2 separate regions of the Homo sapiens genome follow, and region 1 is linked to region 2. The links come from fine-mapping of genetic effects on gene expression. A gene starts in region 2. The other region holds a variant in brackets. All regions are shown on one strand. Distances are from middle to middle.

Region 1 (2,902 bases), 120 kb after region 2:
AAATTGAACAACCAAAATCACATAGCCACTTAGCCCCAGAAATGGGTCCAGAACTAAACACTGGACACAAGCCATCTGAATCTTGTTTCCTGAATCTCAGACCAGGACTTTTCTTCAATAACATGAGGTCATCCTTCTCATGGTAACCGTGATTCATTAGGGGGACTGGAAAAGAATATTAAGACTTTAAACAAAAGGAATAAACTTCAGTAGTAGAATGTCAATGACAGACAATGCTCAAAGGCCCTCAAATCAAATGAAACAGGCAGCCACAGCAACAAGGGAACACCCAAGTATCAAAACACACTTCAACATACAAAAAAGTTTACGGCCCCTCAAAAGAAATGATCTATTCGTTCTATTTTGCTAGATGATTTCTACATACATAAATACCCGAGGCCTGATTACCTTCACTTGGTTTCTTTACCAAATGCCAGAAATGGGGTAGGAGAGGATTTTAGTAAATCAAACTAATGTTTAGGCAGAACAAAGGCACAGGAAAGCCCTAAACCATTTAAGTATTAAAAACTACTTTTAATCGTCCCTACTGCTGCCCTCTAATCCACAACCACCACCAACCTAAGAGGGCTATGATTCCAAGAGCCGACTCTGTTGCAAACCTCCGCTGGACGGTTTTGCGGACTAGGAAGTGAAGATTTCCAGTGGGAGGAAGAGCGAAGAAGAGAAGGAGGTAGATAAGCTAGCGAAAAGAAGGAGGTAGACAAGCTAGCAAAGCGAAGGTGCAGAATAGGAAAGTTACCAGGACAGGGCAGGGAGTTCCTCATGTCCACAGCAGGCCTTGCTCCCCTGGCCGGAGCCCAGGGGAGGGAGACGGAGGAAGGCAGCCACTTTTCCAGTGAGAAGTTGAGCAAGGAGTTGGCACCCGGCCCTCTCTACCTCTAGAGAAAAGGTAAAAGCTAAGCTGGATCGCGTGGTAGAGAAGAGCCCACTTTCAGAGTCCAAGTGGCATTATCTTGGAGTTCAGTGTCTGCCTCCAGGGCTGCAACTAACTCCTCGCGCCTCCCTTGCCGCCTTTCCTCCCTGGAAAGAGGAGGTGAAAAAGGTCCCAGGGCTCGGGTGGGCATGACTGCCTGGCGCAGGCCGCCGGGGGATTACCTGATACCTCCGCGTCTCCCCAGAAGGCGCGGCGCCGCCCTCCAGCCCCACCCGGTCACTCCGCGGTCCCCAGGCTCTGGTGTCTGTCCAATCTCCGGGACTCGACGCCCGAGGCGGCCGCCCGCGAGACCCGGAGCACGA[G/T]CCTCACGCTCAACGTTAGGCACTGCTCAAGGCCGCCCGAGGAGCAGAGACACCTACTGGCCGAGCGCTCCTGCGGCGGCTGGGCTGGGCTGGGGGCCGGAGCCCAGAAAACAGGGCTCCGCACACCCCCTACCGGGCGGGCTCCATCTGCGCCCCAGCCGAGTCCCGGACCCGCGTCTTGGCAGGCTCACCTACCTTGAGGTTCCCAGCTCCTGTCATCCTGTGCGCAAGTGATTTCAGCAACCATCACCACAAAACCTAGTCGGAGGGTGGCTGGCTCACAGCCTCTCCACTTTTTCGGAGTTTGTGCCAAATAATTTAAAGACCCTCCCCACCCTTTTCCAAATTCTGGCGTTTGAGAAGGGAAAATCCAAAGGGATGAGGATATAGGAGCCCCTAAGTGCTCTCCCCAGAAGCCAGGGAATTGTATTTCTGTTTCTCCAGGGCCCTGAAGAACCTGGCTTTCTTGTAATTACAAATACCTTTCACTGAAAAGTGGCTTCTTTCCTCCTGCTCCCTGCCCTGTGACAGTCAGTCCCTCCCTGTTCTGTCCTGGTAACTTTCCTGCTCTGAGCCTTGTTCCTGTGCTAGCTTATCTATCTCTTTTTCTTCTCTTATCCCGCTCTTCCGCCTTTTGGAAATCTTCACTTGCTACTCTGCAAAACCATCGGAGCAAGGCCTGCTGCGGACATCAGGACCACTGCAAATATTTTTTTCCAGGTTCTGAGAGGGATGCAGAAGACGCAGGAGCTGACAGTCTAGTTAATTTTTAGCTGACAAAGTCTCTCTCTCTCTCTCTCTCTCTCTCTCTGTCTCCCTCTCTGTCTCTTTCTCTCTCTTTAACACCTATATTTGAGTAGTTTTGTTTCCATCAGCACTCTTGTCTTTCCTTCTAGTCCTTTAATCCTGACTCTCTTCCTGGATTGAACTTAGGGAGGCAAGAGTTTAAATTAGAAGCAGTAAAATTGTATAATAAAAGGAAGAAGACAAACCAGGCCTTGCTTCTTAACAGGATGACTAATACAGTTTATGGATTATCTGGGTAGTTACATGACTAATATTAACCATTAACAATTATTGAGTTCTTAATGCTGACCAGAAACTGTTTTAAGAGCTTTTTTATAATAATAGTAAAATCAGCTCTTATGTAATGTTTTAAATGTTTACATTTATTAACACATTAGACAAAACAACCCTATAAGATGGGTAATAATATTATTCCCTTTTTACAATTGAGGAAATTGAGACAAAGAAGCAGGAACATTTCCTAAGGTCACACAGCTAGAAGTAAGTTATAAAGCTGGAATTTAAGCCCCGACAGCCTGGTGGATCATTCAGGGTACTCTAGAGGGACAGGACTAATAGGATAGATGTATATATGATGTATATATGAAAGGGAGTTTATTAAGGAGAATTGACTCTCATAATCACAAGGTGAGTCCCACAATAGGCCATCTGCAAGCTGAGGAGCAAGGAAGTCAGTCTGATAAAAGGAAACAGGCACAGAGAGGCTAACTAATAGTCCAGGAACACAGAGCTACTAACTTGTACAGGCAAGATTAGAACAAGTGAGTCTGATCCTTAACTAACCATGGGAGGGAGATACTTTTTTCCTACATTCAGCCATACAGAGGGAGAAGGGATT
Region 2 (2,902 bases):
GCAGCTCTGGAATCTCTGGAAGCGGTCCTGCATTGCCACATCCTTTCTCTAAGCATTTCGAGATATCCTGCAAGGCACGTTGCCATTTGCTTATTTACTTAGCCTACCTTAGGAACACCAGAACTTTCCTTACTTAATCTAGAACTTTAAGAATGTTATGGAAGGCCGGGCACGGTGGCTCACGCCTGTAATCCCAGCACTTTGGGATGCTGAGGCGGGAGGATCACGAGGTCAGGAGATCGGGACCATCCTTGCTAATACGGTGAAACCCCATCTCTACTAAAAATACAAAAATAAATTAGCCGGGCGTGGTGGCGGGTGCCTGTAGTCCCAGCTACTCAGGAGGCTGAGGCAGGAGAATGGCGTGAACTCTGGAGGCGGAGTTTGCAGTGAGTGGAGATCGCGCCACTGCACTCCAGCCTGAGCAACAGAGCGAGACTCCGTCTCAAAAAAAAAAAAAAAAAAAAAAAAAAAAAAGGAAAAAGAAAAAGGATGGTATGGAAGTGGTAGGGGAGGTGTCCAGGAATTAGATCCCTACTCGCGGGGAAGAGAAAAGGTCAGGGATGGGAGGGGGCATCTCCGCGGAGCCCACTTCCCCTGGGAGTCACACATCATACCTTGTCGGACTGGGGACTGATCGGGGTGCCATATCTGCAGTAGGTCACGAAGTGCTCGCAGTTGTTCCACAGCAGGCTGTAGGGGGTAAAGCCCAGCAGCTTTTCAGCCCTCCGCGCCACCTCCTCGTTGAGCAGTGCCTTTTTCTGGAGGGACTCGTCCAGGTGATTGACCAGGATGTTAGCTCCGTAGGCGAAGTCCTCCACTGTGTCCACGCGGATGCTGGCCACTTTGACAATAACGCCCAGGATGAGACGCTTGTTGGAGACCACCTTCTGCGTGCGCCCCATGTCGTCTGTCAGGGCCAACAGGATGTCGGGCATCATGTGGGCAACACGGTTGTCTCCTAGGTAGATGCCATAGTGGGTCAGGTGGGTCCGGGGCACCTCCAGCACGTCGCCTCGGTGGAAAGAGCTGGTTTCATAAAAACTGTTCCTCCCTTTGTCTTCGCCCGCGGCGCCCGAACTAAAGAGCGTGAAGTTGGAGATGAGGAGCAGCTTCTCCAGTAGTAAAGACACCACCTCCAGCATGGGGTTCTTCATCCTGCAGGGAAGAGGGCGTCTTGGAGAGGTGCCGGTGCCACTCCGGCAGGGGCCGGGCTGGGCAAGTTAAGCTCGCCGGGCAGGGGTGCTGCGCTGCTGCTCACCTGCAGGCCAGGTGAGGTACGGCGCAAAGTACGGCCGCTGAGGAGAGAGGAAGGCAAAGGAGGACAGCGAGGCCTGGCGACCGGCTCAGCCAAGCCACAATGGGGAATGAGACGGATAAGGAACCGGTGGCTGACGGCGGGGACAGTGAGACCAGTGCTACAAGCAGCCGGAGAAGGAGCGCACCTGGGGGCCGTGCCGGGGGCAGGGCCGCGCGCGGTGCTCGGAGGTGCAGGCTTCGCTGCGACTTTTTATGGCCGTCGAGGGGGCGGAGCCGAAGGCCGTCACAGACCCGGAAAGCTCACTGATTGGGCGCCGCTGGCGCGCTGCGCTAGCGGCGGGGAGGACGCGGGATCCCGGTTTCTTTGGGAGGGGGGCGGGCCGACTCCCAGCTCCAGGGTTCTGCACAGTGATTCTTTATCGCCGCGGGATCCCGGTTGCACTACTGGCTTTTAAGTGGCCTATTTAGGGAGGTAGAGTCCCAAGGTGTGGCGGCACGAAAGGTCCTGCACCTGTCGGGACTGGGGCGAGTTCCTGGCACTTCGCGGTAGTCTTCGGTGGAAAGTCCTCTTGGGAGAGATTTCTGAGTTGGACCACCTTCCTCTAAAAGGATAGATATGAGGGACTTCGGCTTAATAAAGAGATTGCATTTACTTTGCAAAGTGCGAGCGCCTCGAATGCCTGCAGATTCTTTCCTGACCGAATCTTTCGTTTTGTTTTGTTTTGTTTTGAGACAGTGCCTTGCTCTATCACCCAGAGCAGGAGGGCGGTGGCGCGATCTGGGCTCACTGCAACCTCCGCCTCCCAGGTTCAAGCGATTCTCGTGCCTCAGCCTCCCAAGTAGCTGATATTACAGGCACCACGCCTGGCTAATTTTTGTATTTTTAGTAGACACGGGGTCTCACCATGTTGGCCAGGCTGGTGTTGGCCAGGCTGGTCTCGAACTCCTGACCTCAAGTGATCCGCCCTTCTGGACCTCCCAAACCGCTGGGATTACAGGCGTGAGCCACCGCGCCCAGCCCCTCTTTTTTCAAATGCCCTGAATCCTCCATGCTTTCAGCCGGCGCGAGGGTGTGTGTGTAGGGCGGGGGGGGGGGGGTTGGGGGGGTCGCTACCCGCGAGTCCAGTCCCTGCGCGCCGGTGATTTGAACCCGAGGCCTCTCTGCGCTCCTAGGCACCTGTGGCCGTTGAGTACGAAGCTTCCAACGGTTGGCATGAAAAACGGCGGGGTCCCAACGCCCGCCAGGAAAGCAAGATTCATGTTAAGTTTATTTCTCCGGCTTCAGGGTCACATGGACCCAGCTTCAGTTCACCCACCGAAACTTTGTCCGCCTCCCTTTATTTTTATTTTTATTTTTATTTTTATGTTTTTAAGCATAACCTCCCGGAGACGGCCAAGGAAGGCGAAGTACTTGGATGAGATGCTAAGTTCTTTGCCCGTGCGCCTGCAGCCCGACTCCAATGCCTCCTCGAGGGTGGTCCTAGGGAGCTGCCGGGTGAGGGAGCCGCTGAAGCGTTGGCCGCGCCAGGCTTGGCACGCGATGTCCCCACCGGGTGCTGAGTTCCGTGCTAATGCATTATGTAAATGCTTAAATTCTGCAGACAAAGGCCACAATGGAGAGCCTCGGGTGGCTCCACAAAGC

Which allele goes with the higher level. Positions count from the first base shown, and alleles are read on the strand shown. Sizes are in standard deviations (SD) of each study's normalised expression.
For the expression in atrial appendage of the gene that starts at base 1,484 in region 2, allele G in region 1 goes with a lower level than allele T (large effect, 1.1 SD a copy in GTEx).

Evidence for each region. PIP is the estimated chance that this variant, and not a neighbour inherited with it, causes the effect.
Region 1: its variant is fine-mapped to the expression of LRAT in atrial appendage (GTEx, PIP above 0.99). The same link has a PIP of 0.9 or more in gastroesophageal junction, tibial nerve and visceral fat.

The regions. Positions count from the first base shown.
Region 1 is chr4:154,625,364-154,628,265 of GRCh38, reverse strand. LOC124900169 (a long non-coding RNA gene) reads right to left here and starts at 1,304. Exons shown (of 6, transcript XR_007058343.1): 1 at 1,117-1,304. RefSeq lists a silencer at 1,348-1,477. The variant G/T (reference allele first, on the strand shown) is at 1,258.
Region 2 is chr4:154,742,582-154,745,483 of GRCh38, reverse strand. LRAT (lecithin retinol acyltransferase) reads right to left here and starts at 1,484. Exons shown (of 3, transcript NM_004744.5): 1 at 1,262-1,484; 2 at 618-1,158. The coding sequence starts at 1,157. RefSeq lists enhancers at 2,133-2,645, 2,646-2,902.